Linked DNA regions of Homo sapiens: all the other regions are reported to be linked to region 2. Evidence: microRNA targets listed by miRTarBase, many of them from high-throughput screens and not tested one by one. Region 2 holds a microRNA gene; each other region holds the end of a gene's coding sequence. Distances are from middle to middle.

Region 1 (4,063 bases), not on the chromosome of region 2:
TGTTAGGGGAAGTCAGAAGAGTTCTGTTTCTTGAGCTGAACCACTATGTTACTGGCAGTCAGGAGGAGGGAGAAGGGTTCGTCTCTTGAGCTGGTGATGGTTGCACAGCGGTATTTGGTTCATGGAAACATTCATTAAGCTTACATATAGTTAAGACTTGTGTACTTTGCATATTATATTTCAACTACAAATTGTAAAGGAAAACACACTTCAGCAGCTTCCCTTCATACTTGGAATAAAATCCAAACCCTTGCTCTGGTCTGCAAGGACCCTCGTGATCTGGCCCCGCCTGTGTCTCCAGCTCCATCTTCCTGGTTTTCTCTGACTTTGTCACACTCTGGTCACACTGGCCATCTTTCTGCTTCTCCAGTGATCCAAGCCCTTTCCTGCCCCAAAGGCCTTTGCCCGGGCTGCTGCCTCTTCCCCTGTTTCTGAACGGTCAGGTCTTCATACCGTCTATCTCTCAGCTAAATGTCCCCTGGGAAAGGCCACCCTGAGTTACTCAGTATCCCAAAAGCTCTCCAATTTCCTTCATAGTACGTCTCCTTCTGTTTTCTGTATCTGGTCCTTTTTTTTATTTTTATTCTTTTTTTTGAGGCAGAGTCTTGCTCTGTCGCCCAGGCTGGAGTGCAGTGGCGTGATCTCGGTTCACTGCAACCTCTGCCTCCTGGGGTCAAGCAATTATCCTGCCTCAGCCTCCTGAGTAGCTGAGACTACAGGCGCCCGCCACTGCACCCAGCTAATTTTTGTATTTTTCAGTAGAGACGGGGTTTCACCATTTTGGCCAGGCTGGTCTTGAACTCCTGACCTCATGATCCACCCACCTCGGCCTCCCAAAGTGCTGGGATTACAGGCGTGAGCCACCGCGCCCGGCCTGGTCCTTTTTTTTTTCTTCAGGCGGAGTCTTGCTCTGTCGCCCAGGCTGGAGTGCAGCGTCTACCTGTTCGTTGCTGCATCCCCAGGGCTTGGTATTCTGCTGGGTTCATGGGAGGTGCTGAAGAGGTACCTGCTGGGTGGAGGTTACAGTGAAGGCAGCCAGACCAGAGACAGGGAGAGCCTAGCAGGCAATGTCAGGGATCCCAGGAAGTGAAGACGAGGCCCAGACTGGGGCACTGGGAGCTGCAGTGGAGAGGAGGGGAACGCTGAGAAAGACTTGACAAGTGCTGCAGGGCATAGTGGCTCACACCACTCTGGGAGGCCGAGGCGGGCGGATCACCTGAGGTCAGGAGTTCGAGACCAGCCTGACCAACATGGCAAAACCCGGTCTCTACTAAAATACAAAAATTAGCAGTGCGTGGTGGCGCATGCCTGTAATCCCAGCTACTCGGGAGGCTGAGGCAGGAGAATTGCTTGGACCCGGGAGGCAGAGGTTGCAGTGAGCCGAGGTCGCACCGCTGCACTCCAGCCTGGGCTACAGAGCGAGACTCTTTCAAAAAAATAAAAAGGACACACTTGACAAGACAAAAAACACTGTGTTTATCGTGTCCCTAGAGCCTAAAGGATCTGTCCTGAGCTCCTCTCTGACTCCTACTCCTCCTCCCACTCACTCTCTCCACTCCAGCCCCACCGTCCCCTACTTGTCTTGAGCTCCTCGGCAGGACCTCTGCACATGCCGTTCCTCGGCCAGGCCACGCTTCGCCGGGACCTCCATAGTGCCCTCCTTCTTCCCCTTCAAGGCCGTGCTCTCGTGTCACCTTCTCACAAGGCTTTTCCTCCCAGCCCCGCCCCCTCCCCCACTTCACTTTCACCATTGCTCTCCGGCAGCTCATCCTCGGACAGACCATGTATTTCCCTTTGTTGATTTACTATCTCTCTCTCCACACGGCTCGTTTGCAAGAAGCAAGACTCCATGCCAGGCCTCTCTGACTTCCAGGGGCTTGCTCTTAACCGCTGCACATTAGGGCTCCAGGTGGCCGCTGCCACGTGGACCCCCTGCACCTCCAGCAGGGAAGCGTGCCCACCCACATGGTCACCCACGCTGCCCCAGCTCCTGGGCTCTGGCACAGAGGAAGGTGTCAGCCCTGTGCCAAGGTTTCCCCACCTGCTTCCCCCAAATCCTCAGGCACTGACTGTCTCCAGCTGGAGCTGGGTACTCCCGGCAGCCTGCCCCCGGCTGGCGGGCACCAGCTCCTGGCAGAGGGGCTGGTGTGTAATTAGAAGCTCCACAAACTCCCTAATTGCCAGTTCTTCTCCCAAACCAGGAGGCTGGCGCTGTTCTGAGCCGCCCTGTTGCCGGCTGCCTGAGGCATAGAGAGAAGAAGAAGCCAGGAGCAGAGCCAGGCTGGCGTGGAGGTGTCCCGGGGGAGGGCTGGCGAGGTCAGAGGGGACCACGGGGTGGAGGATGCCTGGCGAGCGGCCAGAGGCCAAACGTGGCACTGCGCGGGCTGCCACCCCTGCTGGGCCCAGGGTTCCTCAGCACAGTCCACCCTGCGGCCGCCTCCCTGCCTTCCCCACCATCCTCACTTGTCCCCACCCATGCCCAGAACGGTGACATCAAACCAGCCAGGCCCATTCATTCTTTATTCAGGTGGCATAAAAATCACTACAAAAACCTTACAAAAGAGCCTTAAGGAGCTCATGGGATCCTTCCCTGCCTCGGTTCCTGAGCTCCCGGGCAGAGGAGGGAGACAGGAGAGGAAGGAAGGGAAATGCTGGCAGTGTTGGGATCTCGAGGAGCCGTGGGAAGTCTGGCGTGACAAGGCACAGGGGGTAGGATGGAGGCTGATGGACTCTCGGCAGGTTAGGCCACAGCCAGGCTGTGCCAGACACGAGTTCCACGCGGGGCTGAGGACAACGCTTCGCCTCCCGAGCCACCACCAGGGCCCGTCTCTCCCCACCCTAGCCTAGGTGTCCCGGGACAAGTCCAAAGGCAGCCCTCTCCCCCTCCCTTTTTCTCTGGTAAACAAAAGTCGGGGTGTCCCAGCTGACGTGGGGAGCAGCTAACCTGTCTCCTGGCAGAACTAGAAGCACCTCCCTCCTGCCCAGGCCCCGGTGCAGGACACCCTCTGAGCCTGTTTGGAAGAAAGATGAGGGTCAGGCTCCCGGCTCCCCGATGCCTGCCCTCCTCCCAGCCGCGCCCCCCCCCCACCCTAAACTCCCCAAGAGGTGTTGGGAAAGAATGGCCTCTCTCAGACTGCCCCCGGCCCCTGCCCCAGTGCCACAAAGCCGGTTGGAAAGAGTCACATGAGTGGAGAGGCTGGTCCAGGCAGGGACTCTGGATGCCACAGCCACGGCCCCTCACTTGGGGCTGCCAAACTGGGGGTAATCCTCCTCCATGGGGGGCACAAGTTTTAAGTCAGGGCCGAAAAGCTTGTCTCCGCGGGGGAAGCCTTTCAGGCTCTGGAGGAAGTCCTTGTTGCCCGGGGAATCCTGCTGTTCCTTGAGCTCCCGCGGTGCACTGGGGTTGGGGTTCCTCACGCTGCCCACGAAGAGGGGAAGGCCTGTGGTGTCCTCGAAGATGAAGAAGAGGAAGGGGCGGTTCACGCTGAAGGAGGACAGGGACATGCGGGACATGGCAATGCTGGTGGCCGCCGCCGCCTCCACGCCGACCTCGCTGAGCTCCAGGGTGGACTGATGCTGCACGCCGGACACCACCAGGCTCTGCTCGGAGATCCCACGCAGGTCTGGGGCCTGGAACAACTCCTGCAGGCCTGCCCAGGGCCAGAGATGGCTGGTCAGAGCTGCCCTTGGCCTCACAGGCTCCTGGAGCTGCTTGGGAGGGTGTCTGAGATCCTGGCCAGGGAACAGCTTGAACTCACAGATACCTGCTTCATTCCTATCCGGTTTCCAAGACTCAGCTTAAACACCACCTCCTCCAGGAAGCCTTCCCTGATCCCCAGCTCTAAAGTCCAACCAAGGTACATTTTCAGTGTTCTCCCAGGTGAGCTGGAGAGAAGCCCTCTCTGTCTTATCGCTTATGCTGTAGTAAGTATGTGATTGCTCGTCTGCCCACCCCATTAGACTCAGCTGTTTGTACATGGTGGGCTCCCGGTACCTGGTACAGTGCCTGGAATACAGCAGCTGCTTAGCAAATGGCTGAAGGATAGATGCTTTATTTATTTAT
Region 2 (4,073 bases):
GGAGGCAGCAATGGAGGTAGCAATGTGGGCATGGAAGATGGGGAGCGACCCCGAAGGAGGCGACATGGGAGGGCTCAGCAGCAGGATAAACCGCCTCGTTTCCGGAGGCTGAAGCAGGAACGGGAGAATGCCGCAAGGGGGTCTGAGGGCAAGCCCTCCCTAACCCTTCCAGCCTCCGCTCCTGGACCTGAGGAGGCCCTCACAACAGTCACAGTGGCCCCAGCACCTCGCCGGGCAGCTGCCAAGTCTCCTGATCTGTCAAACCAGAACTCAGACCAAGCCAATGAGGAATGGGAGACTGCATCAGAGAGCAGTGACTTCACCAGTGAGCGCCGAGGGGACAAAGAGGCACCCCCACCAGTACTGCTGACACCCAAGGCTGTGGGAACTCCTGGGGGAGGTGGAGGTGGAGCCGTACCAGGTATTTCAGCCATGTCCCGCGGAGATCTGAGCCAGAGAGCCAAGGATTTGAGTAAACGGAGCTTCTCAAGTCAGCGGCCAGGCATGGAACGGCAGAATCGGCGCCCTGGCCCAGGGGGCAAGGCTGGCAGCAGTGGCAGCAGCAGTGGAGGAGGCGGTGGGGGTCCTGGAGGAAGGACCGGGCCAGGACGAGGCGACAAGAGGAGCTGGCCCTCTCCCAAGAACCGAAGGTGGGTAGGAACAAACAAATTTATTGTGGTTTAAAAATTGGAGGAGGGGGAAAAAGCCTGAGGGAAAGATAAGTTTGGGTGGAGTGGAGATTGTGGCCTGAGGGGCCATGGGCTCTAGAATGTCAGTAGGATTTCCATGTCTGGCTAAGGCAACTGGAAAGCGGTTGGTAGGGTGTTAGAGTCAAGAACACCCACCTATGTATTCATTGCTGGTTCTTTGCTTTCCAGTCTGTGCATCTGTATGCATAGGAATCCTTAGAAGGACTCAAAAACACCTGGACTTTAATAGGGAAGAGAATAGGTTGTAAGCAGAAGTTGGGAAACATAACTTGTGGGAAAAAGTAACGATTTAGTGGATACTGGAGCTAATGCTCTGTTTTCTCCAGTCGTCCTCCAGAGGAGCGTCCCCCGGGGCTTCCCCTGCCTCCCCCACCTCCCAGCAGTTCTGCTGTCTTCCGCCTGGACCAAGTTATCCACAGCAACCCTGCTGGCATCCAACAGGCTCTGGCCCAGCTTAGTAGCCGTCAAGGGAGTGTAACTGCACCAGGGGGTCATCCAAGGCACAAGCCTGGGCTTCCCCAAGCCCCTCAGGGCCCCTCTCCTAGGCCCCCAACCCGATACGAGCCCCAGAGGGTCAACAGCGGCCTCAGTTCTGGTAAGCTGGAGGGGTTATGGGTGGGAATATCTCCATCCCCAGAGAAGGTCAAGTGCTGGAGGGAGCGGGTGGAGAACCTGGCCTAGGGACCCTGCTGCTGGGTGCGTTTCTGCAGGGAGCAAGGGTAGAAGAATTGGGAGGTGGAGTAGAGAGGAAAAGTTAGGGTCAGTGGCAGAGCCAGGCAGATGCTGACCCTTTTTCTCTTTCCCAGACCCCCACTTTGAGGAGCCGGGGCCAATGGTGAGAGGGGTGGGTGGGACTCCTCGGGACTCTGCCGGGGTTAGTCCCTTTCCCCCTAAACGTCGGGAGCGGCCTCCCAGAAAACCAGAGCTGCTACAGGAGGTAAGGGATGGGTTTGAGATTGTGCTTCACTGCACTCTTACTCGTGAAAATTCTTCTGGGTTATGTTTTCTCTGTTTTCTTTCCTGTTTCTTTCACTGTGTTTTTACTCCAGAATTCTCAGTATTAGTCTCCCATGTGTCTCCCTTGTTGTCCCCACACCCTGTGTCACCCCACTCTGTCCTGGCTTCCTATAATTCCCAATTCCCACCCAATTCATGTTTTGCTTCTGGCCCTTCTCATCTGTAGGAATCTTTGCCACCTCCTCATAGCTCTGGATTCTTGGGCTCTAAGCCTGAGGGCCCAGGCCCTCAGGCAGAGTCCAGAGATACAGGCACAGAGGCCCTGACCCCTCACATCTGGAACCGTTTACATACTGGTGAGTAAAGCTGAGTGAAAGGACTATGGTAGAAGGGTTAAGAATGAGAGGGGCTTCTGAACTGTCATCTCCTCACTTCTCTTCTGGTTGGTGCTCCCTTCTCCAGCCACTAGCCGAAAGAGTTACCGGCCCAGCTCCATGGAGCCTTGGATGGAGCCCCTGAGTCCTTTTGAGGATGTGGCTGGCACAGAAGTGAGTGAGGGTGGGAGGGTGTGTCTGAGCTGGGACTTTTTTGAGCACTGGTCATACCCCCCACCTGCTCTGGGTTGAGTCTGGAGCTGTTCTCTCACTTGGCTGTCCCCTTTCTGCAGTTTGTATGTGTGCATCAGTCAGGTATTGGGGTGCTTTCTACCCTGACTTAACTAGCTCCTTCTCCACTCCTCTCAGATGAGTCAGTCTGACAGTGGGGTGGACCTGAGTGGGGATTCTCAGGTGTCATCAGGTCCCTGCAGCCAGCGAAGTTCCCCTGATGGAGGACTCAAGGGGGCAGCAGAGGGACCCCCCAAGAGGCCTGGAGGCTCCTCACCCCTGAATGCTGTTCCTTGTGAGGGTCCACCTGGCTCTGAACCTCCTAGGAGACCACCACCTGCCCCCCACGATGGGGACAGAAAGGTAAAAGACCAAAAAAGGATAAGGGGAATGTTTCCAGGAATCTGACTTTGGCCCTACCTTTTTCTGCTTTTTCTCTCTGCGTGTGTGTTCTGGGCATTCCAATTTGGATTTCCCTTTCCCTCCCCCAATGCACTTTACTGTGTGCCCAATCCAGGAGCTGCCCCGGGAGCAGCCTCTGCCCCCTGGCCCCATTGGCACAGAACGATCACAGCGTACAGACCGAGGCACAGAGCCTGGCCCCATTCGGCCATCCCATCGACCTGGTCCCCCAGTCCAGTTTGGCACTAGTGACAAGGTCTGTGTGGGCTGGATCTGGGTATCCTGAGTTGGGTGGAGAGAAGGGAAGGACTAAAGGTGGGACATAGAGGACACATGTCTGTCACGGGACAATGTCTCCTGCCTTCTTGTGATCACAGGACTCAGACTTACGCCTAGTGGTAGGAGACAGCTTGAAAGCAGAGAAGGAGCTAACAGCATCAGTCACTGAGGTAAGTGGGAGTAAGAGTTTGGTGGAAAGGCCCAAGATTTCTGGGGAAGATTGCTGGGAGTGACCAGGGCGTCCAGGATGCCAGACATCCCTCTCCACGAGGCCTCTCCTTCCCAGGCCATTCCTGTATCACGAGACTGGGAGCTGCTTCCCAGTGCTGCTGCCTCTGCTGAGCCACAATCCAAGAACCTGGATTCTGGGCACTGTGTCCCGGAGCCCAGCTCCTCAGGCCAGCGCCTGTATCCTGAGGTTTTCTATGGCAGTGCTGGGCCTTCCAGTTCTCAGGTAGGCCCCGCTTCCCATTGCATGACCCCTTCAGTGAATAATAATTTTTTTCTGCCTGGTATGTATTTATAATCAAGCCTTTCTACGTTGCAGAGTTGTGAGATACCACTTTGTCACATCATTTTTCTCCCTACTTTTTGCTTCTATGGGTGGGATGGTGATCTTTTTTCTTGACCACAGATACTAAAGCTGTTTCAACCGTGCTCCTCTCCTGCAGATCTCTGGGGGAGCCATGGACTCTCAATTACATCCAAACAGTGGAGGCTTCCGCCCTGGGACACCCTCACTGCACCCTTACAGGTAAGACTCGATGCCTGTGGATCACAGAAGTACTTGGAGATGTGTTTCGGGGAGAGGGAAGGGGAAGACACAGTTCTAGGGTACTAGAAGCTAGTGGACTTAAGGCATTGCTAGGACTCTGGCTTCCTAACAGCTTTTCTCCCCACAATTTATTTTCAGATCACAGCCCCTATACCTACCCCCCGGCCCAGCCCCTCCCTCAGCACTGCTCTCTGGGTTAGCTCTCAAGGGCCAGTTTCTGGATTTCTCCACAATGCAAGCTACAGAGCTGGGGAAGTTGCCGGCTGGAGGAGTTCTCTACCCTCCACCTTCCTTCCTCTACTCTCCGGCTTTCTGCCCCAGTCCTTTGCCTGACACATCGTTGCT
Region 3 (4,073 bases), not on the chromosome of region 2:
ATGAATTTATAATACCCTACAGTGCAACACAAGAAGATGCACTCAAAGCACTGATGTGAGGAAGTACTTGCCCCGTAGCAGCTATTCACTCTACCAGTGTAAACAAACTCTAAGCTAGGGCAAGACAGCACAGACACAAGTATATACTAACCAGGGGTTTAATATAAATACAACCAGCATAGAAAGACCCAAAACTATACAGAAACCAAAACCAGAATGCCATGTGGTGGAGGCAAAGGGCAGAATTTCTGACCCCTTTGGCTCAGCTGCCCTTCCCCACAAATAAAAACCAACAAAGAGGACAAATCAGGACAATAAAGAAGATTCATGCTAAGCTGTGGCAGAGGGGGGAAGGTATGATCGGGTGGGGGTGGGACAAGGAACGGCCATGGAAGATCACTGGGTCAGGTTGGACCCTGGGCTGGGAGCGGGAGGGCAAGGCCCCTCACCACAACTTAACCCAAACCTAAGCTGCCCCCAGGTGCCATAGGTCCCTGTCCCAGCAGGGAGGCTGATGGGCCTGGGCCCATGCCCCTCCCCACCTTTGGGGGTCAGAAAGTGGCCACCCAGGCCTGCTGGGATGGGGCCTGACACAGGCTCTGCATGCCCATTCAGGGTGCCTGTGGAGAAAGAATGGAGTCACTGTTTAACCATGGTACCTGCCTCAGCCCCAGCAGACCACAGGAGGTTGGCCCCAGACTCACTGAGTGCCTGCAGCAGCCGTACAGACACAGCATCCTTGGCCACCTCATGCCCATCCCGGCCATCTAGGGTCAGCACAACCCAGATGAGGCCGCTGAAGGGCACCGGATGCCCAGGAATCACCACCTGGTACCAGAAGCGGTGCCAGCCAGCAGGTCCTATGCCCAAACACTTGGTGAGGAACACAGGGCTGCCCAGCTTCATTCGTTGGCACAGCAACTGCAGGGTAGCCCGAGCCCCTTGGAACCCTAACTTGTCCCTTGCCAAAGCCAACTGGCTGCCCTCTGGCTGTGGGGACCGCAAGAAGGGACCCACAAGCTGCTGGCGAAGTCGCTGCTTCAGGTCTGGCTTGAGCCACTCCACAGCCACCTGCTCTCCACAGAGGTGTGACTGCCCTGTAGGAAAAATGCAAAGACAAGGGCAGGTCTAAACCCTGGGCCCAAGCCTCCAGGTGGTGAGCCCTTTGGAGCTACACAGTCCTGTTATTTGTAGCCTTCCCATTTCCTGGTAGTGTGACCATGGGTAAGAAAAGACAATGAAGCCTTCAGCCTCCATTATTTGCAAAGGGAGTATAACACACTGCTACCTTACAAGTTTCCTTGGAGAAGTACTGGTTAATTGCAGGCTTTGTCTGCCTCATAACCATCATAATGGCTAATCTTTACTGGGAAAACTTGCTGTAAGTCAGTCAGTGTGCTAAGTACCGTACACCCATTATGTTACTTAATTCTCATAACAGTCTGAGGAAACAGATTCTATAGTAGTAAAAAGCTCAGTTGGATTCCCTTGAGCAAATCAATTTCTCTAACAGTTTCCTCATAGCTTGAGGGTCCTGTGCCTATTTTGCGGTGTGGGGGTGGGGGAAGGTTGAGAATTAAGTCAGGAGGTAATGCTCGGGAAGTGTCACAAATTTAGGTAAGCGGTGGTGGTAGCACCATTGGAAGTTTTAAAAATCTGAGATCAAATAGTAAAAGGTTGCAAATTCTGGCATGTTTGACTCTAAGATCTTGTAACTTTAACAGCTATGCTCAGTATAAAGTGCCGGGCAGAACGCGTTTGGCCCCAACCAGCACCCCCGCCCCAGCCTACCTTCCACCAGGGCCTTTTTGGCCATGGCAGCGGCCCGGTGCGAGCTGAATTTGAGCAGAGCGATCTGCCCGGGCGCCGGTCCGGGGCTGGGCAGCAGCCGCGCCTCCTGCAAGCCGGGACCCAGCGGCTGCAGCGCGAGCAGCAGCGCGCTGCGGGTCAGATTCGGCGGCAGGCCGTCAACGCTCAGCTCACACTTCTCGGTGCTGCGGCACACGAGCAGCGGGCAGGACGGCCGCAGCGGATGGTTGTGCAGCGTGGCGATGGCGGCCTGCGCGCCGCGCCTCGAGCTGTAGCGGGCATAGGCGAAGCCGCGGTTCAGGCCGCTGAAGGTCATCATCAGGCGGAACTCGTAGAGGCGGCCCACGCGCTGGAACAGCGGGATAAGCTGGTGCTCGTACACGTCCTGAGGCAGCCGCCCGATGAACACCTCTGACCCAGCTGGCGGCGGGCTGCCCACCCAGCCTGTGGGAAGAGGGTATGCAAGGCCACCGTCAGGCGACGCTTTCGAATTCTGAGCCCACGGACCCAGCGCGCGGGGGTGGGAGGCGATGTGAACAAAGGTCTGTGAAATGGGTTTACACCCGTACCCTGGGTGGTTGGCATAATTAGGTGACTGCGCTAACAAGGGGGCTGGCACAGAGTAGGTACACCTTGAGATTGGCCCCCTCCCTCGACGGGGCGGGTGGACGTGGAGCCACAGTTCCTCCTTTGCTGGGGGGTATAAATCCGGGTAGTTCGCAGTTTCTGACAGTGAAGGCTCGGAGCAGCCCCTCCCCCAAAGGGGGCTGGTGTAGCCGGACAGGCGGAGGGGCTGGGACTACCGTACCTGGGGGTGGCCCGCCATACTTCCTCTGCCCGTTCACCTGCACCAGGCGGATGCCTGTCTCCCTGACCCACGCCTCCAGCGCCGCCTTGTTCTCTGGATTCACCCTCTCACACCACAGCTGAGAGGGAAAGGAAGGTTGGAATGGCGGATCGCCAAGCGCGCCCCCACCTCTCCTGTGGTACTGGGGTCCCTAAAGCCGACCCCCGCTCCGGCGGGGCTCGCCGGCCCCCAAGTCGCCAGCCGCTTACCTCACAATCCCGCTTGGACTGCATGGCTCTCCAGCTGGCCCCCTCGTACCCTCTTTATAACTTCCTCCCCACCGGCCTCTGGAAGCTTCCCTACCCCTCCACCCCGCAAGCTCTCATTGGCTCTGAGCGCGACCCCGCCTCCCAGGGGGGTGGAGGTATCCACTGCACGTGCGCCGCCCGGGCTTCGCTCAGACCTTCAGGTGAAAGCTGCAAAGTCGCGGGTGCGTATGTACGGGGGCTGCCTCCCGAGGAGGAGCTCCCAAGCCGCAGGGTGGACGCTGGAGACAAGAACCTCAGGGTCACAAGTTTACTGTTTTTCTCCCTTTTCCATCCCTACATTGGTCTGCTGGGGAAGGCGGGGCTAGGCATCACTGACACACGCAGACTCCGTGGTTGAGGCATTTTATTGGACCTTTGGCAATTGGTGGTGGGGAGGCATCTGCTCCAACTGGTGCGGGGCCCTGCAGATGGGACCATCTCAGGCTGGGTCCTTGTAGCCCAGGAGCACAGACTGGACTAAGCCTCCTGGGCCTTGTATGAAAAAGGTGTTGTACCTGGCCGTTTTTGCCAGTAATAATCAATAAAATAACCATAATAAAAATCAAAGGCTCTGTTCTGACCACTCTTCAGGTCTTCCGCTGAAACGGAAAAGTGCAAAGCAATTGAAGTACATATGCAGTTTGTCTTAACCTCAAATAGTGCCAGTCCCACTTCCTTTCCTCTGATAGTTTGTTCAGTTCAGCAGATGCAGAGGGGCTGGCCTGTTCTCCTTTTGATTTCCTCCACAAGGTCTTCTCTTCGGACATCCACCTGGCCAGGATGGGAGAAGAAGGTGGTATAAGCATCTTCCATTCCACTGCTCCCCGAGTGCCTAGTTTCCTCTAGCCCTCTAGGCATCAGGCTTGTCTCAGCTGGGAGCAGGAACCTAATTAAACACCTCAGGCTAGAGTGTGCCTCTTGGGGGAGCCAACAAACCATAAGGTATATGCAGGGATGGAGATCTCACCCTACTAAGACCACAGTAACAGGTTAAGCCCTCAAGGCTTTTATGAGTTGTACTAATATCAATGCCAGGCTTTTTCTCAGGTCTTGAATGGGCATGGGCCTGCCAAAATGGCATACATTCTCTGTCCCTTAGCCTTCCTGCCCACCTCCCTCACCTCTTCCCTGCTCGTCACTGAACGGAGCTTGATGACCCCATCCTTGAG
Region 4 (4,000 bases), not on the chromosome of region 2:
GCTTCTTTGAGGAGCTCTGGGATTCCTGCCTGCCAGAGGGTGCTGAGAGTCGTGTGTGGTGTCCACTTGGGCCACAGGGCCTGGAGGGCTTGGTGTCCCGCCACCTGGAGCCTTTTGTGGTGGTGGCCCAGCCTCCTACCAGCTACTGTGTAGCAATCCACCTGCCCCCGGACTCAAAGCTGCTGCTGCGGCTGGAGGCGGCCCTGGCAGATGGAGTGCCTGTGGCCCTGCGGACCGATGACTGGGCCGTGCTGCCCCTGGCGGGGGACTACCTCCGTGGGCTGGCGGCTGCTGTCTGAGCCCCGGGAGACCAGGTGGGGGCAGGACTGTGGCCCTTGTGGGGGCCAAGGCACACTCCTGTAGCTCTGTCGCCAAAACCCTGCATTCCGCAGTGCCCTCGCTGGCTTGTTTTCTTTTGGGCCCCGGTTGGGAGCAGGCTCCTGGGGGTGAGGGTCTGTCTGAGTCTGTTTTTGCTGCTCTAGCAAGATCCCTGAGACGGGGTAAGTTATAATAAACAGAAATGTATTGGCTCAGAGCTCTGGAGGCTGGGAAGTCCATAGTGGAGGGCCCAGAGCCCAGTGAGGACCCTTCTGCATCTTCCCATGACAGAGGACAGAGTGACAGGAGTGAGGGGAGAGAGCGAACCCACTCCCAAGATAACGGCCTGAGTCCACGCAGGAGGGCAGAGCCCTCGTGGCCTGACCACCTCTTAGGGTCTAATCTTATACTGTTACAGTGGCAATCGCATTTCAACGTGAGCGTGGGAGGGGACAAACATTCAAACCATAGCAGGGTCATAGGCCCCAAGAAGGCTTCCAGACAGAACCCGGCACTGTAGAGCTACAGAGTTCCTTCTCACCCAGACACACTAGTGCTCTCCAGAATCTCTGCCCAGGAGGCAGGGGAAAAATCTCCTTTCTGCTTCCCAGAGAGGGTCTGGCCTTGCCCAAGGCCACTCAGTGATTTAGGAAGAAGGCTGAAGCTAGAGTGTGGACCTGACCTGTTGGACAGTACTTTTCTTTCTTTTTTTTTCGGGGAGGGGTTAAAGACAGGATCTCACTCTGGCGCTCTGGAGTGCAGTGGTGTGATTAGGGATCATTGCAGACTCTGCCTCTCAGGCTCAGGTGATCCTCCCATCTCAGCCTGCCTCCGAGTAGCTGGGACTACAGGTGTGAGTCACCACTGTATTTTTTGCAGACAGGATCTCCCTGTTTCCTAGGCTGGTCTCGAACTCCTGGGCTTAAATGACTCTTCTGCCTCAGCCTCACCAAAGTGTTGGGATTACTGGTGTGAGCCCCCACACCTGGCCGAGCCAGCGCTTCTCAACTCCCAAGGTTTGCAAGCTCCCTGCCCCAGGGAGCTCACGCCAGGCAGGCCAGTGGGCCTAAGCCAGAAACAGAAAGACAGCAGTGGCCAGGTGGAGAGCTTCCCAAGCTGTGCCGATTAGAGCCAGCTCTAGGAAGGGCCTGCTAATAAGGTCTAGGGTCTGAGACCAAGTTTTTTCTAATCTCAGCCCCTAAGAAACCTAATTTGTGCTTAGGAATCTTCCCAGGTAAGAAGAACTAGTTCCTCTAGTTGTTGTTTTTTTTTCCCAAACATGCAAACACTGAGGATTGAGCTGTGTGGGGTCAGCTGTGCTGCCAGGCACATGTACGTTGCCTCATTTCATCCTTGCAACAGCTCTGCAGGGCCCCGCAGATGAGGAAATCCGTAGGCAGGAGCGGTTGAGTGATTTTCCTAAGGTCACCCAGCTGTTTGGTAATAGTGTTTTGTCATCTGGTAGCAGGTTTCCATTACCATGCCATCAGAGCAGACCTCAGCCAGGGCCACAGAGGTCCCAACCGTCTCTGCCCTCTTCTGCTGCCCCTGCCTCATGGGCTCCCAGCCACAGGTTCCCCATGGGCCAGCTTTACGCCTCCTGATCCTTCCGATTGGGGCAGACTAGGAGAGGAAAGACGGGCCTGGGCTGGGTGCGGTGGCTCATGCCTGTAATCCCAGCACTTTGAGAGGCTGCGGCGGGTGGATCACCTGAGGCCAGGTGTTTGAGATCAGCCTGGCCAGCATGGCGAAACCCTGTGTCTAATAAAAATACAAAAATTAGCCGGGCGTGGTGGCGGGCGCCTGTAATCCCAGCTACTTGGGAGGCTGAGGCAGGAGAATTACTTGAACCTGGGAGGCAGAAGTTGCAGTGAGCCGAGATCACGCCACTGCACTCCAGCCTGGGCGACAGAGCAAGGCTCTGTCTCAAAAAAAGAAAAAAAAGAAAGGGCCTGGGACAGTGGTACTGTTAATAGGTGGAGTCAGGAGGCCTGTCTCAAACTTGAGATGTGGCAATAACTTGCTTTGTCACCTCGGCAAGTCATTTCCAAATCAGGAAGGGGTCAGTTTCAGGAAACAGAAACTTCTCCAGCTGTTTTTGGCAGAAGGGGATTTAAGGGAATCAGGGTACTTAAAGTACATGGGAAGGCTGGAGAAGTCGCCTCCAGGAAGCTCCCACTGGAGCTGGGATCAGAACGTACTGTCCTGCCTGCCATCCCCTGTAAGCACCCAGGAAGCTGGGCTTGGGCCCTGGGACATGGGGTGGGACTGCCACTCCTGCCTCCTGACACCCACAAAGCCAGAAGCGTGGTGCTGCTGCAGAAGGACTGAACATCTCCAAGGCTGGGCCCGCAGAGCAAACTTCCTTGGCCCTGTGTCCTCCATCCATATCCTTCAAAGGACACCTCATTAGTGGACTCCATTTCTCTCTTCCACGGAACTCCAGTGGCAAGGGAATCCAGAAACGTTTTCTTTTTGCCTGGAGATGCTAATCCTTAGCCTAAGAATAAGGAAACTGGTCCATGTAAGGACTGACCATCCTTTCACCCATCTGTCTGCCCACTTGTGCATCCATCCCATTTTATCCATCCATTCCTCCAGTTGTGGACACCAGATGACTTTCAGCTCCCCCTACCCCAACCAGAACTTTGCTGCAATGGCCATTCTTATATGCCCCTATGGACCCATGGGACAATTCTCTGGGATACATGCTAGGAGCAGAATTGCTGAATCATAGGGAATGCATGTGCTTAGCTTGGCTAAGCAATGTTGGAGTAAAAGCTTTTGGTTTTGCATCTTCTCAGCACTTCTAGGGAGGCACCAAAAGGGAGGATGGCACTGACTGAGCCCACCTGAGATAGCTCCTAGACCCCAGCCCTCTGTGTCCTCAGAATCACACACTGCTGCTCATCACTTCAGCTTCCCGAAGATCATGGCAATAGCAGCATGCCTGTAACTGTCCCAAGTACAACCAAAAATTCTTCCTAAAGAGAGGGAACCAAAGTCACACGGGTCACCTTGTCCACCTGTGTGGACGTTGCTCATGTTCACATACCCTTCCTTGCCTCCTTCAAGGCAGGTCTGGCCACAAGCCCAGCTCTGGCTAATGAAATGTGAAGGGAGTCAAGGGCCGGGGGCGGTGGCTCACACCTGTAATCCCAGCATTTTGGGAGGCCGAGGTGGGTTGATTACCTGAGGTGAAGAATTTGAGACCAGCCTGGCCAACATGGTGAAACCCGTCTCTACTAAAAATCCAAAAATTAGCCGGGTGTGGTGGCGTGCTCATAATCCCAGCTACTCAGGAGGCTGAGGCAGGAGAATCGCTTGAACCCGGGAGGTGGAGGTTGCAGTGAACTGAGATTGGGCCACTACACTCCAGCCTGGATGACAGAGCAGGACTCCGTCTCAAAAAAGAAAAAAGAAATGTGAAGGGGTCAGTTTTGGGGCAAAATATGTCATTGCCAGTGCTCAATTTTCCAGCCCTCTCTTCCTCTGCCATGACCGTTGGGGAAGTACATGTTGAGATGGAGGTGCTAAATAGTTGAGTCATAATCTCACCTGGATACGCTGTAACAAATGCCCTGGATTATCAAATCAGTTATGTAAACTAAAAATCCTAAAACCCCACCGACTGAACAGATGCCACCTCGTGGCCGAGGGAATCTCAGAAAAAACTTAAAAC
Region 5 (4,070 bases), not on the chromosome of region 2:
GTGTCTTCACTCCGCTCTACTACTCCGAGCTCCGCCGCGCCGGCCCCCAGCCCCAGGTTACCACTTTTCTCTCTCCCACTTCGCCGGCAACGTGAGTCTCCCGCACATGCTACTCGCCTTGACCTCGGAAGCAAAACTCCGGGAGCGGTCGTCCCGGAACCGGAAGCCTCGAGGTTTAGTCCCGCCCCCCTCTCCTCGCTGCTTAGGCTCCGCGGCCTCCAAGCTGTAGCTATGACGGCGCGCGGGACTCCGAGCCGCTTCTTGGCCAGCGTTCTCCACAACGGACTGGGTCGCTATGTGCAGCAGCTGCAGCGTCTGAGCTTCAGCGTCAGCCGCGACGGCGCCTCGTCTCGCGGCGCCAGGTGAGCCAAGGGAAGTGCGCAGGCGCGGGTCGGGGTGGGTGTGGAGGTGGCAACGACTCCCCGGGTAGGTCGCCCCCAGTCAGGGGTCATACTGCTCACTGTCCCGGGTCGCTTAGGGAGTTCGTGGAGCGGGAGGTGATCGACTTCGCCCGACGGAATCCAGGGGTCGTAATATATGTAAACTCGCGTCCGTGCTGCGTGCCCAGAGTAGTGGCCGAATACCGTGAGTGGGGCCGGGCTCGGGCTGGAGGGCGGGATCAGGGGCTCGACCCGCTATCCTCCTTCTCGCTTGGTCGCACCGGCCAGCTTCCACCCACTCTCACCCCTCTTCTGCCAGTTAACGGGGCTGTGCGCGAGGAGAGCATCCACTGCAAGTCGGTCGAGGAGATCTCGACGCTGGTGCAGAAGCTGGCCGACCAGTCGGGCTTGGACGTGATCCGCATCCGCAAGCCCTTCCACACCGACAACCCTAGCATCCAGGGCCAGTGGCACCCCTTCACCAACAAGCCGACCACGTTCCGCGGGCTACGCCCCCGAGAGGTTCAGGATCCTGCCCCAGCCCAGGTGCAAGCACAGTGAAGAGTTGCCCCACCAACTGCAGCCCCAGGCTTTGGACTGTTACTCCGGTAAAGGTGGTTCTTCCCCTTTGGGATTCCAAGCCCAGGCAAATGGAACCCATCAATGGGCAAGTTGACAGAGGTTCTGCTTGGGATAATGAAGAGCTGCCTGTTTCTTTCCAGTGCCTGCTTCTGGGGGCAGTGACCTTGTGAACCACTCATTTTTATGCAAGTGGCATCCCTAAAACCTGAGATGAGGAAGACTTCAAGGGTTTTACAGGGCCCTTGTTTTTTAAATCCAAATTGATAATAATGATCTCAAAACACAGTGAGAGGTCTGAAGGCTGGCTTCTGAAGAATCCCTGATGTCTTATTGGAACAACCACTGAGCTACGGAGAGCTCTGCTGTGATGGGCTAGGCACTTTATATCTGTGTGAATACAGATTTATAAAACAGGTTAATAAACTTATCCAAGGTCACATTTCAGGTCTGTCTTCAAAATGTGTGCATATGTTAAGCACAAGCCTCAGTTTTCATTATTTTAAAACTAGACGCAGAACATATAACAACTGTCAGGTGGTTAGTATCAAAGGCCAAGTGATTAATCTAGGCCTGACCCCTGAAAGGGAGAGGGGAGTGATTCTCAGACCAAGTCCTGGCTGACAAGCTTTCTCTGGTCTTAGCTATACATCTCCTTCCCCCCACGTCCCTCTTTGTGCAGAAATAAAATCCATGTCCCTTGAGCCAGCTGGTGGGGGGTGCTGAGAACCTTGGGGAAGGGCAGGAAGGCTGATATTAATGAGTATTTTCTAATCTTAGTTTAAAAAGGGGGGATGGTGGGGAAATGAGAGGCAGGAAATGAAAATCTAGAAACCCCTGTAAGAATTCTTGAACTGTTGTCATTTTCTTGTCATGCCCTAACACCATGATCAATGAATAGTGTGAACCTTACTAAAGAGGCCTGTGTGCCTGCCAAGGAGTCAGGATGGAAGCGGAGGATCCCAATTTCCTCTGCAAATAGTTGTATTGGGGAGCAGAGCCAATCCTGGAGGCAGATATCACCTTCTGTATAGGCTCAGGAGCCTGTCCCCTGGTGATCAGGGGTGGGCGCATCTAGATGAAGCAGACTAGTCATAGCTGTGGGGAAAAAGGGTGTTTATTAACCAACGGCAGGGGGAGGAGCTGAGCCCAGGCTCCCCACTCTGTCACATGCCTGTTCCACCCACCTGGTTGTAAGTGGGGGCATTCCTAAAGAAGTGTAGCCATTCTCACAATAAATACATTCATTGTGGGGTGGAGGTGGGAGAGGTTGGGTGAAGGGCAGTAAAAACCCGTGGGATTCCACGTTCTCAGCTACAAAAATAACAGTCATCCTCACCCGAGGGGAATGGGGGAGCTCAGTCAGAATTGATTGTCCCATATAGGCCTAGAGACTTCAGAGGCCCCTGGCCCCTGAAAGTGCCCCGGTGAGGTAGGACAGGGGTAGGAGCTAAGCGTCCAAACTCCCAGCCTCTGCCCTTTGCATAGTTCCAAGAATGGGCTTCATGTGCCAGTTGAGACATCAGATTTCTCCTCCCTTTCCCTGCTGTAGTCTAGAGGAAGCAAATGCTTGATTCCCCCAAAAGAGAGGCTGGCTCATTGAGTGCAGTGTTGGTCATCCATCCTAGGCAAGGGCCTGTGAGGACAGTTAAATGGGAGGGGGATCTCCCTCTGAAATGTCCACGGACTAAACCCAACAGACAGGTCCAAGACAGCAAGGGAGGCTCAGAGGTGCATGTGAGTGGAAATGTAAGCACATGTGTGATACAGGTGTGTGTTACCACATGTGCATGGGGATGGGACATGCCTGGAGCTCTGTCTCTCATACTCTTGAGAATGACCAAGGAGAGTGGGGAGGCTGATTCACAAGGGCCACACAGGAAGGGAGAGGAGGGGAGTGATGCAGTCTTACCTCCCCAGGCTGGCCCGTTCCCAAGCTCTTGACAAAGAGGTCACCACATGGGGCTGGGGAAGAGGACCAGATAGGATGTGGCAATTGGGAGGGTACCCCAAGTCCAGAAGCAGGGATGAAACAAGAATGCACCAGGAGAAGGTGAGGGTGGGGGCACTGCAGCCCAGCCGATAAACATTCTTCCATGTGTGCATGTGAATGTACGCAGGGCTTAGGTGGCTGGCAGAGGTCTTGTCTGGTTTCAGGACCATCCAGCACACAGGGCCATGCAGAGGGTGGTGACATTGAGCCCATATGGACCTGCAGAGCCCTGCCTGGGAGAAAGAGAAAGGGTTTGGGCAGATGAATGGAACAGGAGGATGGAGTCCTCACCTATAAGTGTTTAGGTTAGGGGATAGGAACTGGCTCTGGGTCTGCAGGGCACCTGATCCTGAGGGAGCACCTACCTCTGAGGAGCACCGATGGGCCTGGGCTGCTCACATGTGGGTCTGTGGAGACTGAGGAGGGGGCTTTGGCTGGGCCTGACTGGCCAGCCCTACAGGGACATCAAAAAGTTGGGAGAAGGGTATGGAGTGGGGGTAATGAAGGGAGGGTGGCTGTGTTAGGGAGGCAGTGGCCCAGCCTGGGACAGATAGGCTGGCTTGGAAGAGCATTTGTTCTGGGAGGCTGGGCTCAGACAGAGCTCTCATCTAGCTGCTCCACGAGCTGCGTGTGCTTCCTTTTTTCCAGGATGCGGCTGAGTTCCTCGGCGAAGGAGCAGGGCCCTGCTGGTACTCCATTGTTGCTCTGCCTCAGAAGCACATAGCTATTGCCATTCATCCTCCGCAGCCGGCTGGGCAGTGCCACCAAGCCATTGGTCAGCTCAGCCGGTGGCGGTGGGGGCGGTGGGGGTGGTGGGGCTGGGGCTCCCTCCCCAGGGATGATCTGGAGACAGCTGCCCTCCAGGCCCCCAGCCCCCTCATCATCACCCTCATCTTCCTCTCCAGGACACTGGCCTGAGACTGTCTGCAGTTGCACCGCAGATCCTCCTGCCCGGCTGGCCCGACCCAGTGAGTATTTCCGTCGGCGCCCTCGTCTGCCTTCCCGCAGACAGGCCACATAGAGGAGGGAGGAGGCCAGGATGAGGCAGAGGCCACCAAGCGCGGCAATGGCTAGCACATAGAGCAGTCTCACATCAGGTGCCAGCTGTGCCCCAGGTG
Region 6 (4,073 bases), 27 Mb from region 2:
ATTTTCTGCCTACTTGTTCTGTCAATTATTGAGGGTGGGGTATTAACGTCTGATAATAGTGGGTTGATCTATGTCTCCTTGAAGTTCTAGTTGTTCTTGCTTTATGTGTTTTGAAGCTTTGTTATGAGGTGTGTGTTGTCAGTATGAAATAACTTTCTTTAATCCTGGGTGATACGGTTTGGGTCTGTGTCCCTGCCCAAATCTCATGTCAAATTGTAATCCCCAGTGTTGGAGTTGGGGCCTGGTGGGAGGTGATTGGCTCATGGGGGTGGATTCCCCCATTTAGTGCTCTTCTAGTGATAGAATTCTCACAAGATCTGGTTGTTTAAAAGTGTGTGGTACCTCCCACACCCCTCCCTCCTGCTCTGGCCATGCTTCTCTTTCACCTTCCGCCATGATTGAGTTTTCCTGAGGCCTCCCCAGAAGCCAGGCAGATGCCCACTGTGCTTCCTGCACAGCCTGCAGAAACGTGAGCCAATTAGGCCAGGTGTGGTGGCCCATGCCTGTAATCCCAGCACTTTGGGAGGCTGAGGTGGAGAGATCACGAGGTCAGGAGTTCGAGACCAGCCTGGCCAATAAGGTGAAACCCTGTTTCTACTAAAAAAAGAAAAACAAACAAAAACAAAAAAACGAAACAAAAAAAAACTAGCCAGGCATGGTGGCGCATGCCTGTAATCCCAGCTACTCAAGAGGCTGAGGCAGGAGAATCATTTGAACCCAGGAGGTGGAGGTTGCAGTGAGCCGAGATTGCGCCACTGCAGTCCATCCTGGGCAACAGAGGGAGGCTCTGTCTCAAAAAAAAAAAAAAAAAAAAGAAGAAGAAGAAATGTGAGCCAATTAAACCTCTTTTCTTTATAAGCTACCCAGTCTCAGATATTTCTTTATGGCAGTGCGAGAATTGACTAATATGCTGGGAATTACTTTTTGCTCTATTTTGATTAATATAGCCACTTCAATTTTCATGTAACTAGTGTTAGCATATCTTTTTTCCATCCTTTAAGTATTTGTATCTTTCTATTTAAAGTACATTTCTTGTAGGCAGAATATAATTAGGTCATGTTTTTTTCAATCCAGTCTGAAAATCTATGCCTTTTAATTGGTGGTGTTCACACTATTCACATTTAATGTGATTATTGATATGCTTAGGTTGAGTCTCTCATCTTGCTACTTGTCTTCGATTCATCCTAACTGTTCTTTATTCCCTTTTACCTCTTTTTCTGTCTTCTTTTTGATGAATCAAGTTTTTAAAATAATTCCATTTTATCTTTTGATAGTTTAATAGGTATGATTTTTTGGTATGTCATTTTAGCAGCTGCTTTAGGGTTTACAGCACATATCTGTAACTTATCACACTCTATCTTCAAATGGTAGCACGTCACCTTGTGTATGAGAACTTTACAATAGCATGATTCTCCTCTCCTAATCTTCAAGCTATTGTGGTCATCCATTTTACTCTTACATATATTATAAATCCTACACTATGACTTTTATTTAAATAACTGTCTTTTAAAGAGGTTTAAATAATAAATGCTACATTTACCCATGTTGTTACTATTTCCAGTGCTTATTTCCTTCAGAAGGCAGGCATTTTCCTTCTGCCCAAAGGACATCCTTTAACTTTTCTTGCAGTGCAGACCTGTGGGTGACAGTCTTTCAGCTTTTGCAAATTTGAAAAGATCTTAATTTCTTCATATCCATTATTCTATTTTCAGTGGCGTCTAGTCTGCTGTTAAACCAACCAGTGGAATTTGCAATTTCAATTATATTTTTCATTCCTAGATTTGTTTGGCACTTTTTACAATCTGCTTCGTTGTTCTTATACTCATGCCATTTAACCCTCCTTATTTCTGTAAGCATAAAGCATACTTTATGGATGTGCTTGCTAACTTTAACATCTTAAGTCTTTCTGAGACTTAACGGCCTGCTTCTGCCCCTTGTTTCTGCTGGTTCTTGTCTATTTTACACTTGTGATTTTTTTCTATGAACTTACATTCCTTGAAACTCTCCGAGTTCCTCCAAAGACAATCTGTTTTGCTTCTGCCAGTTACCTGTAAGGCAGTAAAATCCTGTTATCACTTGAAATTTCCCTCTTGAGATTTTTTAAGACTATCCAGGTGGTGCAAACAAGCCACCCTAAAAACTGCTGTTATATATAAATCCTGTGGTTATATATAGGCTCTCAAGTAAGATGTTTTCCCCCAGGACAGAAATCTTCCTTGCTGTTCACAGGGGTTGGGGGGATGGGTGAAGCAGATGGATTTATTCCTAGTTTACCCCTACATTGCATCTATCCTTTTGGAGTCTCACTTTATGAGGTCTCCTGTTAGTTTTCCTCCCTTGGGCAGGCCCTGAGCTTTGTGTGCTGTTCTGCAGCCCCTTCCCACCCCAGGCTATGAGAAGAAAACTTCAATTTGGCATTTGGCAGATGCACTAAGGCGGAAAAGTGGCGTCAGTACTCCACTTACTTCTTTGGGTTTCTGCTTCCATTTACAAAAAAAAAAATTTTTTTTTCCCTTTAAGAACTCTTATTTTGCAGCTCTTGTTTTTTACATTAAAAAAATGGTTCTTCAGACAAAAAACCAAACACCGCATGTTTTCACTCATAGGTGGGAATTGAACAATGAGAACACATGGACACAGGAAGGGGAACATCACACACCGGGGCCTGTTGTGGGGTGGGGGGAGGGGGGAGGGAGAGCATTAGGAGATATACCTAATGTTAAATGATGAGTTAATGGATGCAGCACACCAACATGGCACATGTATACATATGTAACTAACCTGCACGTTGTGCACATGTACCCTAAAACTTAAAGTATAATAAAAAAAAAATGGTTCTTCATATGTATTCTAAAGTTTTAGTTGTTTTCAACTGGTCCTTATCAGCCTTACTGCTGGAAATAAAATTCTTTCAACCTGTTCTGTAACGATTTACAGTATCCATTGATCCCTCTCTGATCCAGAGGCATTAGCGTGAGAACACACTTAGGAACTAGGCTGGCCTGAGATCAAGTCTCAGGTCCACTGCCACTATAACTTCGGTAGTGTATTTACACACTGTGCCTCAGTTTCCTCAAAGGGTTGGTGTGAGATTCTAACATGGTAATATATAAACAGCACTTACAACAGGGACTGGCCCTGGTAAGGATGAGATTTCTTTTTATTATCTGAAAAAGTTGTAATGAACAAAATATATCTCAACCAATGGAGTGAGATGGGGACCAATATCCCCGGTCCCTGGACATCCTGGCCCAGTGTACCACATAGTAACCCACAACCCTGTGCTTATGTTGACAGAGAGAAATCAACTATGAGCTATTCACTGGACAGCAGGCCTTGCTGCCATCACAGATGGGTCTCAGGTGCAGGGCAGGATGCCAGCAAATGCTGATCTGAGAAATGTCACCATCACACAAGCCTGAGTGGACACACAGACCTTTTACCATTAAGAAATCTGAAAGCAAGCGTAAATGTAAGTAAACACGATTTTTAATTTTTATTTTTTATGGTGGACAGTGATCATTTGCCCCAACAGCCATCTGAAGCCAATAGTCCTGATTATTAAAAATCACAAAGTTATATAAATGTTCTCCTCCTTTTCGAAAACCATGTTCATTTTTTTCCCAAGAAACAGGGCTGTCTGCAAAGCCTTGAACGGACAGTGTAACCCATGGAGCTAACTTCGGTTCATCAAAGTAGTGACTGAAAAAAAGGTAGTTGTTAAACAGAGTTTTAAAAGAGAGTTAGGAATGTCTGCATTTTAAAAAATTTATTCAGGATAAGTAGTATTTCTGATATTCTAATAAAGCTTAGATCTTAGCTTTAATTTTTGAAAATCAAGAGGTGTGTGATAAGTTCCTGATGTCACACTGTGAACTCCATAAGGATTAACTAATATACAACACATGAAACAAACCTCAGCTGTTCCCACCCTCATTCTGGGAGGTCTTTAAGACAAAAAGAACCCAAAACAAAAAACCCCACAGGCGTTTAAGGATCCTTTCCCTCCTATTAAGAGTACTGTTCTCAGAGTCTCAGTTAACTGAAACGTTGCAGGATAATTCACCAGATTT
Region 7 (4,073 bases), not on the chromosome of region 2:
TTCAGTCCACTGTGTACAGAAGTAATACATTTCCCATCGTTAGTTGAATAAATTTACACACTGTGTTTAAGAGATGAAACCACGACTTCGTCAAGCCACATTTGGTTGCCATAAGATTCCAAAGGATTCTATCCTCTTAATGTGAACCACATGTAACCCAAGGTTCTTCTATCAAGGTTAGAACTGATATTCAAATCCTCGGCTCATTCCACTTAGTAAGTCAGCTCCAAGACACAGGTTCACCATAAATGGCCAGTTTTACCTCCTGGTCCCCAACATGCTTTTGAGAACAGGTGGCCCCTCTTTGGAGCTCACTGGAATGACTGAACCTCATGCCAGCCTCTCCTCACCCCCTCACTGCCCACAAGACACCCCCTTGGTCTCAGGTCCCAGGGCTGGTGACAAAGTGATCTTTGCAGTCTTAGAAAATAAACTGGGAATCTACAAAAGGAAAAGAAAGCATACAAAATGTATCTCTTTCTTCCAAAATACATGCTTTCAGTTCTACGTTTTGGTGGAGCCTGAAAGTATTTTCAAGGGAGATATAGGTTGAGTTAATTTATAGGTTTGTCCTTTTCTTTCATAAAAATACTCTTGTTTGGTAATAAACTTTTTCTTCTACAGTAAGAGAAATAATACTGTGTTATCAAAAGCAAGAAGGCTTACGACTCAAGTGGGATCTAAGCCCCTGAGGGCCCGGAGAGCTTCTGTCAACAGCTCTCCCACCCCGGACACCCAGGGAGCTGTCGGACACCAGCTCGGCAAAAGCAAACACTGCCTCAACAGTGCTTTTTATCTTCTTGTTTTATAAAATGGCTTACCTGAGAGAGGCATGTATTATTCAGTGCAAGAGGGAACATCAATCAGATTAAGGAGTAAATGGGAACTACGTGGATTAGATTTGCGGCTGTGTCATCGACCTTTCTCGGGGCCAGCAAAGTGCCAAGTGTCAACACAGTGAGGGAGTCGAGGGGCTTGGCTCAGACCCTAGCAAGGGGCAGGAGGGAGCTAAAGGTCAGCTTCGGCCCTGGCACCATGGGTGGGTCAGAGGAGGGGTGAGGAAGGTGAGCGGGCCAGGAGGCTGCAGGGGTGGAGGCGTAAGCACTGGGGTGTGCTCTGCCCCTCGCTAGTCAGGGCAGAGGATGGCTCATGGTCCTGAACGGACAGCTCCCACCTGGCCCACGGGGGCAGAAGGTGGTCTGCGGTCCAGTAGATCGGCAGGGGCGGGGCTGGCCGGAGGTGCTGGCAGGGGAGCACCCCACACAGCCCGCACCGGGCGTTGCCTACACAAGGGCTCCGAGATGGCTGGAGTGAGGGTGGGGCTAGATCTGGTCTAGAGAGGCGACTCCAAGCTCTCTTGCTGGCTCCCAGCTGTGGGAATCCTTTAGGCTTGTTCTCAACCTACACGTTAAAAATGCTTCTTGGTGTGTTTGGGGAGGGGGAGAGGGAAACTGAGCTCTCTCTTGACCTCCTCCAACACCCTTGACTTGCTTACCCAGCCATTTTCAGTAGCTACACGGGTGGTCACAGAACACTGGGCGGCACTCGGCACACAACACAGAACCGGGGCAGTCCATGCAGGTGCGGGAACACATGTCGGACCCAGGGAGCAAGGAACACGCCACCCCGAGGAACATGCAAACGGAGAAGATCCCTGCAGATCCAAGGATGCCACAACCCGACGGGCGCTGAGGAAGCACGATTATCTAAGAAAAAGCCACTGTTGAACAACAACGCGCAGCACGGCGCCTGATCTGCACCCCCCTCTGCGGGAGTGATGCATTGCAGAACGGCGGCCGGGTACCGTGCAGACACCCACGAGAACACTGACACAGAGACACTGACAGACACACACAGATGCACTAGGTTCTTGACACAACGTGGACCTGTGTTTAAGGGGACAGGTGGCCCTAGAAGGAACAGAAGACAGAAACACCTGCTCCTCCTGCAGAAATGTCTGCAGCTGCAGCTGAGCCAGGCAGTGCAGTAGAATTTCTAGAAAGACTTGTCAGCGGTTTGCTGATGAGACTCCTGGAGACAGAGTCGGGGTGCCCTCAGGGCGTGCGACCACCAGATGGTGCAAAGCAGGAAGCTCCTCCTACCCTGGGCAGGGCCTCCCGAGCCTGCTCTCTTTCTCACTTAGCGCACACACACACACAACACACACACACACACACAAATGCACATACACTTCTCTCCCCTCCTTGGAAGGACTAGAAGGAAATGTCCATGTTGCTTTTCACGGGGAACAAAAAAAGGCAAAAAGGTTCTGGACACTGCTCAGGTGTCAGTGTCGCCGGCCAGTGGCAGCTTGTGGGCTGCTGTAGGCCGTGAGCCCCATGAGATGGAGGAGTGGGTTTCAGGCCCCTGCCCTGGCCAGGCCTGGCTCCACACGTGAGGTCTCTGGAGTACCCCTGGAGGGGTCTGAACCAGCTCACCTGGCGCCTGGTGTGCTGGGAGGGATATGGCTGTCAAAGTCCCCCAAAAAGGACCTTCCCACCGATGGGCTGGGTTGAAGTCCCAGTGGCCCCATGTGGCCAGGTCTTCATCGAAACACGGCTTCTTTCCTTAAAAGGTCCCCTCTGGTCTGCACTGCCGGAGGCCAAAGGAGAGGGGTGCTGGGGCCCGGCTTCCCGGGCTGTGGGTGGCACGCTCCTCTCTCAGGGCCCTCTGGGCTGAAGCAGTGCAGCACAGCTCCAGAGGTGAGAAGGGAGGGGCAGACCCCAGCCTTGCAGGATCTGAGGAGGTGGGAAGGTCGAGGGCAGGGCCGTCCTGGGGCAGAGCTAGCTGAGCTGGGCACACAGGCCGACCTCCCAGGCCCCATGCTGCTCTCAGATGCAAACAGCAGGGATGGATGCTGTCTGGCCCTGGGGTAAGGGCCAGTGTCCTCAGCCATCCCCTCTCCTCCACGGGAGAGCACAGGGTACCATCCCAGGACGGCCTGCCTTCACCCTTCAGAGACAGTTCACTTCTATTACAAAATAAAAATTCTCTGTAGAGAGCCCCCGCCCCCGGCCTTTGACAAACCACTAAAAGACATTTATTACATCAATATAAAGATATGTCGCTCTGAGAAAGGTTTGCAAACAAAGACAAATGCGTGTACTGAGGTTGCACCAACCCCAAAGCACGCACGCAGCTAACAAAGTTGGCAAATATGAATTTTCATCATGAGATTTTTCCAAAGCCAGAAGAAAGAAGGAAATGAGGTACGTCCTCAAAGAAAAGGCCTCCCCCAGCCACGCACGCACACACGTAGACACACACATGTAGACACGCACACACAGATCCTCTCACCAACTTCTGCCTTGTTCAAGACGTTGCAGCACCCACTTCAGCTGTGAATGGGGCATGCCTGAGAGAGTCCGGGCTCCTACAGAGAAGTGGGGCTTCCTCAGGGACAGATGGGAGCAGGGGCTGCTTCGTGTGCATGAGGACAAAACCAGGCTGTGTGCGTGTGCGTGTGCAGGGGCGACGGCCTCGGTTCATTCCTGGGGAAAAGGGAGAGAAGAGACGCACAAAACAGATCATCGCCGCACAAGCAGGGGGCGAGGGCGGGCGGGCTCAGCCTGGCCTGCCGTGCTCAGTTGATCTGGCGACAGGCCTCGAAGGTCCACTTGGTGGCCCCTCCGTAGATCTCGATGTGGGATTCAGCCCAGGCGATGACATTGCCGGACAGAGCCTTGGTGCTGCAGGTGGCCAGGTTGTACACCTCCCCGGGGGTCAGCTTGCGGTCCCAGATGTTGAAGTGGGCCAGCTCACCCACAAATGCCTGGGTGGCATCAAACCCACCACCCAGAGTGTCCTTCAGAGAAAAACAGAGGATGAGAGTGGAGGGGTCGCCAGGTGGTCTGGGGGCCCATCCCTAGGCCGGGGATCTGAGTGCCTCTGTGCCTGCCCGATCACGGACTCTCACGGACACTCCTAGGTGCCGTTTCGTCTCCCTGTCCCTGACTCTCCAGCCCTACATCCATCCCTCCTCTGGGGGAGCCCAAGAAAAGGGATGGCACCGACCACCTCTGCCCTGGAGCTTCTCCTGGGGGGACCTGGACTCTGCCCCTCCTGCAGCTGGT

Evidence for each region. Region 2 holds the annotated microRNA hsa-miR-6832-3p (ACCCUUUUUCUCUUUCCCAG, at 1,497-1,516, shown strand). A microRNA usually pairs through its seed, bases 2 to 8, with sites in the 3' UTR of a target mRNA and lowers its output. Matches are read on the target gene's strand: a 7mer-m8 pairs with bases 2 to 8, a 7mer-A1 pairs with bases 2 to 7 and ends in A, and an 8mer does both.
Region 1: miRTarBase lists SERPINF2 as a target of hsa-miR-6832-3p. Seed matches in the 3' UTR shown: 8mer at 2,885-2,892.
Region 3: miRTarBase lists HARS1 as a target of hsa-miR-6832-3p. The part of its 3' UTR that is shown has no 7-base or 8-base seed match.
Region 4: the mRNA of AP5B1 is a reported target of hsa-miR-6832-3p. Seed matches in the 3' UTR shown: 8mer at 3,141-3,148.
Region 5: miRTarBase lists SEMA4G as a target of hsa-miR-6832-3p. Seed matches in the 3' UTR shown: 7mer-A1 at 2,494-2,500.
Region 6: miRTarBase lists RPP40 as a target of hsa-miR-6832-3p. The part of its 3' UTR that is shown has no 7-base or 8-base seed match.
Region 7: miRTarBase lists NPTX1 as a target of hsa-miR-6832-3p. The part of its 3' UTR that is shown has no 7-base or 8-base seed match.

The regions. Positions count from the first base shown.
Region 1 is chr17:1,753,709-1,757,771 of GRCh38, reverse strand. It overlaps SERPINF2 (serpin family F member 2), which reads right to left. Exons shown (of 10, transcript NM_000934.4): 10 at 2,507-3,650. The coding sequence ends at 3,238. Among named protein-coding and RNA genes, the nearest start is that of SERPINF1, 6.3 kb to the left of the region's middle.
Region 2 is chr6:31,632,343-31,636,415 of GRCh38, forward strand. It overlaps MIR6832 (microRNA 6832), which reads left to right and starts at 1,445; the gene lies at 1,445-1,516. It overlaps PRRC2A (proline rich coiled-coil 2A), which reads left to right. Exons shown (of 31, transcript NM_004638.4): 16 at 1-650; 17 at 1,037-1,305; 18 at 1,517-1,647; 19 at 1,894-2,023; 20 at 2,130-2,215; 21 at 2,411-2,635; 22 at 2,790-2,930; 23 at 3,052-3,123; 24 at 3,240-3,407; 25 at 3,625-3,707; 26 at 3,867-4,073. RefSeq lists a silencer at 2,337-2,500.
Region 3 is chr5:140,670,654-140,674,726 of GRCh38, forward strand. HARS1 (histidyl-tRNA synthetase 1) reads right to left here. Exons shown (of 13, transcript NM_002109.6): 12 at 4,026-4,073; 13 at 3,252-3,675. The coding sequence ends at 3,604. It overlaps WDR55 (WD repeat domain 55), which reads left to right. Exons shown (of 7, transcript NM_017706.5): 7 at 1-1,692. DND1 (DND microRNA-mediated repression inhibitor 1) reads right to left here and starts at 2,923. Exons shown (of 4, transcript NM_194249.3): 1 at 2,866-2,923; 2 at 2,618-2,735; 3 at 1,792-2,253; 4 at 141-1,097. The coding sequence starts at 2,889. The coding sequence ends at 640. RefSeq lists enhancers at 1,797-2,592, 2,593-3,388.
Region 4 is chr11:65,774,155-65,778,154 of GRCh38, reverse strand. It overlaps AP5B1 (adaptor related protein complex 5 subunit beta 1), which reads left to right. Exons shown (of 2, transcript NM_138368.5): 2 at 1-4,000. The coding sequence ends at 299. Among named protein-coding and RNA genes, the nearest start is that of AP5B1, 4.8 kb to the left of the region's middle. RefSeq lists an enhancer at 1-810.
Region 5 is chr10:100,983,605-100,987,674 of GRCh38, reverse strand. It overlaps SEMA4G (semaphorin 4G), which reads right to left. Exons shown (of 15, transcript NM_017893.4): 15 at 2,059-4,070. The coding sequence ends at 3,544. It overlaps MRPL43 (mitochondrial ribosomal protein L43), which reads left to right and starts at 178. Exons shown (of 3, transcript NM_032112.3): 1 at 178-362; 2 at 479-585; 3 at 700-1,406. The coding sequence starts at 232. The coding sequence ends at 941. TWNK (twinkle mtDNA helicase) reads right to left here and starts at 132. Exons shown (of 5, transcript NM_021830.5): 1 at 1-132. RefSeq lists an enhancer at 350-419.
Region 6 is chr6:4,991,575-4,995,647 of GRCh38, forward strand. RPP40 (ribonuclease P/MRP subunit p40) reads right to left here. Exons shown (of 8, transcript NM_006638.4): 8 at 3,143-3,702. The coding sequence ends at 3,504. Among named protein-coding and RNA genes, the nearest start is that of LYRM4-AS1, 10 kb to the right of the region's middle.
Region 7 is chr17:80,467,230-80,471,302 of GRCh38, forward strand. It overlaps NPTX1 (neuronal pentraxin 1), which reads right to left. Exons shown (of 5, transcript NM_002522.4): 5 at 1-3,805. The coding sequence ends at 3,584. Among named protein-coding and RNA genes, the nearest start is that of NPTX1, 7.3 kb to the right of the region's middle. RefSeq lists an enhancer at 696-1,420.